Homo sapiens: one gene and its partner. The protein of the gene in region 2 interacts with the protein of the main gene of each other region in a biochemical or structural test. Each region holds a gene or a part of one and is shown on either strand. Other genes may lie near its edges. The genes, in order: THOC5 and TAP1.

Region 1 (3,500 bases), on a different chromosome or scaffold from region 2:
GGTTTATCTGCTATGACAGGCCAGACGCTGAGTCCTGGCAGAAACAACACAATATGCTGCGTTCTTGAGAAGCTGTGTCCAACTCCTGAGGAAAGGCAGGCTTCTGCTAAGGGGCCAGGCCCCCTGGATTTCTGCTCATGCCTCATATTTGGTACTTGCACACAAGAACAAGGGCAGCAGAGCCTGCAGACATGAGTCCCAGAGCAAGGACTCAAGTTGCCTGGGTCTAAAAGGCTACTAGGCTCAGAGAAAATGCAAAAGGTACGTAAACTCTTGTAAGTCTAAGACATTTTAGTGTCCTGAGTGGATAGAAGACAGGTCACAGCCCTGAGGGGACACATTCTGCCAGTTCAAAACTCCAAAGGCCATGACAGGCCTTTTTTTTTTTTTTTGAGACGGAGTTTTGCTCTTGTTGCCCAGGCTGGAGTGCAGTGGCATGATCTCAGCTCACCGCAACCTCTGCCTCCCTGGTTCAAGTGATTCTCCTGCCTCAGCCTCCTGAATAGCTGGGATTATAGGAACGTGCCACCACACCCAGCTAATTTTTTGTATTTTTAGTAGAGATGGGGTTTCATCATGTTGGCCAGGCTGGTCTCAAACTCCTGACCTCAGGTGATCCACCTGCCTCAGCCTCCCAAAGTACAAGGATTATAGGCATGAGCCACCGCACCTGGCCTGGCCTTTCTAGAGTCTATACAGGAAGAGAAGAGGTAAGCTCCTCAGCCAACTAGATGAGATCAGTGTACAGACCTGGGGCTGCTCTTTGGGGAAGTGGAGGCCACCCAGCTTCTGCACCCACAAATAGGGGTGACCTAGCTCAAGTACATAGTCGCTCAAAGTCAGGATGCTGCAGAAAAGAAGATAAATAAAATTGTGCTGTAAGTCATTTCTGCTGTGGTCCCAGGATACAGCCTCCTCCCACCCTCCCATGCCCCACAAACCATCCAGTCCTGCAGGTTTGGCCATGTTCACAGCCAGGCTGCTGGCAAAGCCCTTCAACTTTGTCAGTTCCCTACTGTGAATTTCATCTCTCTCACATTCACTTTCCTCTTTTTCCTTTTCTTCTTGCAGCCTTCAACTTATAAGCAAATATCAAATACAAAGGCAGTGTACTAATGTCTTTATTGGTCTACCAATTTAGAAAATCTTTTAAAAATTAATCCTCGGATAATTAAAATGTCAAACATTTTTATTGTATCACGTATTATTATGCTTCCAGAGGGTTTTTTTTGTTTTTCTTTTTGTTTTTGTTTTGAGACAGGGTCTGGCTCTGTTGCCCCCAGGCTGGAGTACAGCGACATGACCATGGCTCACTGCAGCCTCAACCTCCTGGGCTCATGCAATTCTCCCACCTCAACCTCCCCAGTAGCTGGGACTACAAATGCCCACCACCATGCCTGGCTAATTTTTGTATTTCTTGTAGAGACAGGGTTTTGCCATGTTGCCCAGGCTGGTATCGAACTCCTGAGCTCAAGGAATCCACCTGCTTTGGCCTTCCAAAGTGCTGGGATTACAGGCGTGAGCCACCACACCCAGCATGTTTCCGAGTTTTGATCCTTCCACCCTTTTTGTGATCTCCCTTTGCCTTGTAAGCAAGAAAGAACAAACATTTCCTTCTACCCTGTGGTCTTTCCTATCCTCTGGGTCACCTCTGGCCCTAACAGGTCTCCAGCATTTAGCTTGAGCCACCAGAGAAACTCAGAAGTAGAGAGCTCGGAGAGGAGGAAACTGCTGACTCACCCAACTTTATCAAACTGATACTGATTGGCTGGATTCGGAGTTTTCTTTCCATGATCCCCAGGATACAAGCAACTCAGGACTGAGTCAGGAGACAGCAAGTCACTAGAAAAGGAAAAACAGTAAGCAGTGAGAATGCAGCCAACATCTTTCTTCAACATAGGCTTGGGCATTTGGGGATGGTAATGCCACGTCTCACTGATGACCAATGCCACCATTTATTGAAGGCTTTCTGTGGGCCAGACCGTTTATATGCTTGAGGTCATTGCATCCTTACAACCCTATGAGGGAGGATTATCATTTCCATTTTATAGAGGAAAAACTCAAGGCTTTAAAAGATATGGCTTATTCAAGATCACACTGCTAGTAAGTGCTAGAGGTGGCTTTATATTGTCTGATCAAACAGACTAGTACTCTTAATCATTAATTTTTAAAAAACTCATCCCTTCAAGATTTATATGGTGCCTAAGGCCTTACCTCAGGGGAGCAAAGTCCCATGACACCATCAGTAGAAATAATTTCAATTTTCATAAAAGCAGAACAGACTCCTTTCTGCTACAGAGAGAACAAGTGTATAGCTTTGGTGCTATGTCTATCTCACTTTGACCAAATCTTATGCTCATCACAGGAAAAGGCCCCCTGTATGTTCCCAGAAAAAGATACAATCACATACACTGGAGACCCACAGCTACAAGCGGAGAGAAATAGTGACGCCACTGCCACCCACCTGGGATGGTTCGGGCACAGTTTGTCATTAAATGTGACAAGCAAAAAAGAGATAATGTGGGAGGGTAATGTAGTAATTTTATCACAAAGGATGACAAGGCCCATTCTTTCCCTGAACCAAAGGGGGTTCTCCTTCATCTTTCCATGGATAACGTCAGGAGCAACTTGGGCAGCACGTGCCGGTCCTGCGTTTTGGCCCCAGCATGCCTTCAGGAACTCCATGCTAGGACAGTGGAGGCTTCCAGCTCTTCCCTACTGTGTCTCACTGAGTATCCCTGTTCCCCAAGGTCTTTGCCCCCTTCACCACCTCAAATGGAGAACTGACTACCAAACAAATAAAACATTTCAGGCCAGGCACAGTGGCTCACGCCTGTAATCCCAGCACTTTGAGAGGCCGAGACGGGCGGATCATGAGGTCAGGAGATCGAGACCATCCTGGCTAACACGGTGAAACCCCGTCTCTGCTAAAAATACAAAAAAAAAAAAAAAATTAGCTGGGCATGGTGGCGGGCGCCTATAGTCCCAGCTACTTGGGAGGCTGAGGCAGGAGAATGGTGTGAACCCGGGAGACGGAGCTGGCAATAAGCCAAGATTGCACCACTGCACTCTAGCCTGGGTGACAGAGCGAGACTCTGTCTCAAAAAAATAAATAAAATAAAATAAAATAAAATAAAATAAAACTTTTCAGTCTTTTAGCAAGTGTTTAGGGACTATTACTAATAGATTGATTCAATCTATTAGTAAATAAATAAAACAGAACTAAAACTGCCCACGATGAAGGTTATTAATTGACAAAACCTGATGAAGGAATCACCTTCTTGGCAAAATTTATATCTGCAACATATGGCTAAGACAACTGAACTTGGTAAAAATGATGAACATAAAAGGAAAGGCTATTTATAGTCATAAAAATATAACACCAAAACAAAAAAACTTCTCAACCAGTCAAATCTTTGTTATAAAATTTTGATAAAAAGTAAGGGATTAAAAAAACCTTAGTGGCCGGGCGTGGTGGCTCACGCCTGTAATCCCAGCAC
Region 2 (4,539 bases):
CTACTTGCCACTGCTCATTTGGCAGTGAGGGGAGATTTCCCAAATTATAAGTGGTTTCACTGTGTCTTTCTTACCAGGCCGTAAGTTACTCTGGCCCCAAAGGACGCTCCTCTGAGTATGCTTTCCGACGGACCGACTTATCATGAATAGAGGGTCAAAGAACAGGGTTAACTTCAAGTTAGAGGCTATTCCTCTCTAACAAAGCCGCCCCCAAGCCACGAGTGGTGGCAGTAGTCCAGAGCAGAAGCCAGCCAGCCAGTCTTGGGGCTGCCATCTGCCCCAGGCGCCCATCCTAAGCAAAGTCCCCCCAGTGGGCACATGGGAGTGGGCAGGGAAGACACAGGGAAGGGAGTAAGGCAGCATCTGGGCCAAGGAGAGGCCTTCCTGGGTCAAGCTAGGGAAGGGCATCACTAGTTAACACAGAACGCCCATTATCAGTGCTTGGGCTAAGAGTTGCCCAGTGGCAAGTTTATCAAAAGTCTGTGTGATGAGTTGGTCCTTCTCAATAAGTGCCTATATTTCCTTCTCCCAAGTGCTGTTCTACTTCACCCAGGGCACCATTTCCTCATCTCTTTGCACCATCCCCAACCCCCTTTCTTGATTTAACCAGCCCCCACTGTCCGGGACCAGAGTGAAAGCGAAAGCGCTTTAGAGTAGCTTCCCGTTGACGCTTCCAGCTAAGAGTCAAAGCACCCGCTTTTTCCACCAGCCTCGCGTGCCTGTTCCCTTCACGGACACTCTAGACGACCCCCCTCAGAAAAGAAATACTCTATGCTCATTGCGGGTTGCAAGCGCTGGCTGCTACAGGCGACCTCCCTGCGCTCCCGTTGGTCTCTGCATTCACTTCTCCGCGCGCGCTTCCAGGGTCCCCTGGCCGCTGCATCTCCTCCACCCCTCTGCCAACCCTCAAGCCCAGACCCATTACCCCGGTGTGGACTTCTCCCGCCCGGGGTAAGTCCCCGGTTGGTGCTCCCGCCCGCAGCATCCCTGCAAGGCACCGCTCTCCTCGCCGCCTGGGGCACTGGTTTCCAACCTGGGACAGCGCACAACGCGCAGCCGACAGCCCCGCCCCTTCGCGGCGCCGCCAGGAGGCGCCTGGGTGCTGCGGGGCTGCTTTGCGCGCGGCGCTAACGTGTGTAGGGCAGATCTGCCCCGAGACAAGTGACGAGGCAGCCCCGCCCTGAGGCTGGGGTGGGAAAACTGGTGCAAGTGGAAAGGCAGGAGGCAGGGAGAGGCGAGAAGGGTGTGCGTGATGGAGAAAATTGGGCACCAGGGCTGCTCCCGAGATTCTCAGATCTGATTTCCACGCTTGCTACCAAAATAGTCTGGGCAGGCCACTTTTGGAAGTAGGCGTTATCTAGTGAGCAGGCGGCCGCTTTCGATTTCGCTTTCCCCTAAATGGCTGAGCTTCTCGCCAGCGCAGGATCAGCCTGTTCCTGGGACTTTCCGAGAGCCCCGCCCTCGTTCCCTCCCCCAGCCGCCAGTAGGGGAGGACTCGGCGGTACCCGGAGCTTCAGGCCCCACCGGGGCGCGGAGAGTCCCAGGCCCGGCCGGGACCGGGACGGCGTCCGAGTGCCAATGGCTAGCTCTAGGTGTCCCGCTCCCCGCGGGTGCCGCTGCCTCCCCGGAGCTTCTCTCGCATGGCTGGGGACAGTACTGCTACTTCTCGCCGACTGGGTGCTGCTCCGGACCGCGCTGCCCCGCATATTCTCCCTGCTGGTGCCCACCGCGCTGCCACTGCTCCGGGTCTGGGCGGTGGGCCTGAGCCGCTGGGCCGTGCTCTGGCTGGGGGCCTGCGGGGTCCTCAGGGCAACGGTTGGCTCCAAGAGCGAAAACGCAGGTGCCCAGGGCTGGCTGGCTGCTTTGAAGCCATTAGCTGCGGCACTGGGCTTGGCCCTGCCGGGACTTGCCTTGTTCCGAGAGCTGATCTCATGGGGAGCCCCCGGGTCCGCGGATAGCACCAGGCTACTGCACTGGGGAAGTCACCCTACCGCCTTCGTTGTCAGTTATGCAGCGGCACTGCCCGCAGCAGCCCTGTGGCACAAACTCGGGAGCCTCTGGGTGCCCGGCGGTCAGGGCGGCTCTGGAAACCCTGTGCGTCGGCTTCTAGGCTGCCTGGGCTCGGAGACGCGCCGCCTCTCGCTGTTCCTGGTCCTGGTGGTCCTCTCCTCTCTTGGTAAGGGGAACGCAGGGCAAGAGGGGAGGACACAAGGGGACTGGGACAGGAATCAAAGGTAATTGTCAGTAAGGTAGAGTAGCGTGGGTTCTGGGAAATGTGGAGCAGGAGAAGGACTCCTAGCGTGGGTCTTGGAACACCACTTCGGTGTAGAAGAAACGGCACTGGACTGGCGGGGGCCAGAGGTTCTGGGCTCCATTGCTGACCGGGTCTTGATTCTTTGGGCCACGCCGGAAGCGGGGAAATCCTTTGCTCTGGGGCCGAAGGGCGGGGCATCCTCATCTCTAACAGGAGGCTTTTCTACTTCATGATCTCCAGCCTTCCTAATAAAATCCTGAAAGTTCTGGTAGAGCAACCACAGGGTAGTGAGTTCCAGGGCAGCCTATTTAGGTTCGGGATTGAGACGTCAGTGTTTCCTTTCTGCTGATGCCCTCCAGGATAATGGTGAGGGGGAGGAGGCGTGGTGGGGCCAGTCTGACTGGAACTGACCTACTTAGACTTAATATTTGTGCGTGACCTCTCTTCTCTTTCTCCAGGGGAGATGGCCATTCCATTCTTTACGGGCCGCCTCACTGACTGGATTCTACAAGATGGCTCAGCCGATACCTTCACTCGAAACTTAACTCTCATGTCCATTCTCACCATAGCCAGGTCTGGGGGCTGAAAATGGGGCACCCTGCAAATGAGGGAGTTGGAAGTTGGGGCTGCTGTCCGAAATGCACTTATATGGGGATACCTGGGACCTTCAGTCTGTTCCCTGAACACACCCTGATCCCCTTTTTTTCCGGGTTCTTTATAGTGCAGTGCTGGAGTTCGTGGGTGACGGGATCTATAACAACACCATGGGCCACGTGCACAGCCACTTGCAGGGAGAGGTGTTTGGGGCTGTCCTGCGCCAGGAGACGGAGTTTTTCCAACAGAACCAGACAGGTTTCTCCTGAAACTCTTTCATTATACGCCATGTACTGTTCATATCCTCATACATCTGCTTTGATCTCCCCCCTCCCCGCTCTCTCTCTCTCACACACACATACACACATTGTTCCTTCTCATTCTTGATATACCCTCTCCCTGTCTCTCTCTCTCTGTCTCTGTCTCTCTCTCTCTCTCTCTCACACACACACACACACAATTGTTTTTCTCATTCTTGATATACCTCAGGAGCAAAATATTGTCCTCCTTACCTTAAGAAAAACCTAGAGTTTTCATCTAGCATTTTCTTATAAATCTATTCCTATGTATCCTTAGATAGAAACCATAGAATTTCAAACCTGGAAATTTTGAGCTCATAGAGACCAACTGCCTCATCTGACAGAGAAGGAAACTGAGGCCAAGACCCTAAATGCTGAAACTGCACAGTTACATATGGCTAGAGACACACTTGGGGTTAGAACCCTGGTCTCTTGAGTGCTCCACAGACTTCGGCATGCTTTCTAGCAGCACTAGAAGCTGTACAGTTACATATGGCTAGAGATAGACCTGGGGTTAGAACCCTAGTCCCAGTGAGTGCTCCACAGACTTTGGCATGCTTCCTAGCAGCACCCTCCTCCTCCATCTCTGTTATGTGACCAGTTTAAGCTCTTCCTGCCTGTGTGTATAGCATGGGACATACAGGTTCTCTAGGGAACAGAAAGCTTTCAGGAAAATGGAAATTCACATGTGCATTAATGACTTTATAATTAAAATGAAGGTCAGGCCTTTCCTCTTTAACACTCATCTTCCCTGCACTGAGATTTGCAGACCTCTGGAGAACCCTAACCTTGTTTCCTGCAGCCTCCTTAGAACCCCATGTTGACACCCCTGACCCTGGCATCCTGGCTCATTGTTAGTTCGTCTCATCACTTGGAACCTGTCTGATTCACCTCACTCTCTTCTCCCCAACCCTGCAGGTAACATCATGTCTCGGGTAACAGAGGACACGTCCACCCTGAGTGATTCTCTGAGTGAGAATCTGAGCTTATTTCTGTGGTACCTGGTGCGAGGCCTATGTCTCTTGGGGATCATGCTCTGGGGATCAGTGTCCCTCACCATGGTCACCCTGATCACCCTGCCTCTGCTTTTCCTTCTGCCCAAGAAGGTGGGAAAATGGTACCAGGTATGTTCATGGAGTTGGCCCGCTCTACACAGACCCTCATCTCCCAGACTTGGCAGACTCAGTTCCTCTCACATTGCTTTCAGTCCAGCTTTCCTGGCACCCTTACTGATTCTCCATCTTCATGGAACACCCTGTCCCTGTGGTCCATGTTCCCAGGTTGCTCAACATTAACCTCCATACTCTCTGGGTCTTCTTTTCTAGCTTCTCCCCACAATCTGTCTTTAAGAATTTGATCCCCAACCCGTTCTGAGTCATTTTCCTCTTCCTC

What was found.
Region 1: the proteins of TAP1 (region 2) and THOC5 form a complex in vitro, tested with the Homo sapiens proteins (one study listed by IntAct).

The regions. Positions count from the first base shown.
Region 1 is NC_000022.11:29,519,258-29,522,757, forward strand, and holds part of THOC5 (THO complex subunit 5), read right to left. Parts: intron 1,843-3,500; coding exon 1,741-1,842; intron 848-1,740; coding exon 751-847; intron 1-750. UniProt on the Homo sapiens protein: Component of the THO subcomplex of the TREX complex which is thought to couple mRNA transcription, processing and nuclear export, and which specifically associates with spliced mRNA and not with unspliced pre-mRNA.
Region 2 is NC_000006.12:32,850,676-32,855,214, reverse strand, and holds the start of TAP1 (antigen peptide transporter 1), read left to right. Parts: upstream 1-1,510; 5' UTR 1,511-1,578; coding exon 1,579-2,176; intron 2,177-2,453; exon of another isoform or gene 2,454-2,620; intron 2,621-2,712; coding exon 2,713-2,827; intron 2,828-2,975; coding exon 2,976-3,106; intron 3,107-4,065; coding exon 4,066-4,271; intron 4,272-4,539. Other genes in the region: PSMB9 (proteasome subunit beta type-9 precursor), read right to left, coding at 926-985. UniProt on the Homo sapiens protein: ABC transporter associated with antigen processing. In complex with TAP2 mediates unidirectional translocation of peptide antigens from cytosol to endoplasmic reticulum (ER) for loading onto MHC class I (MHCI) molecules.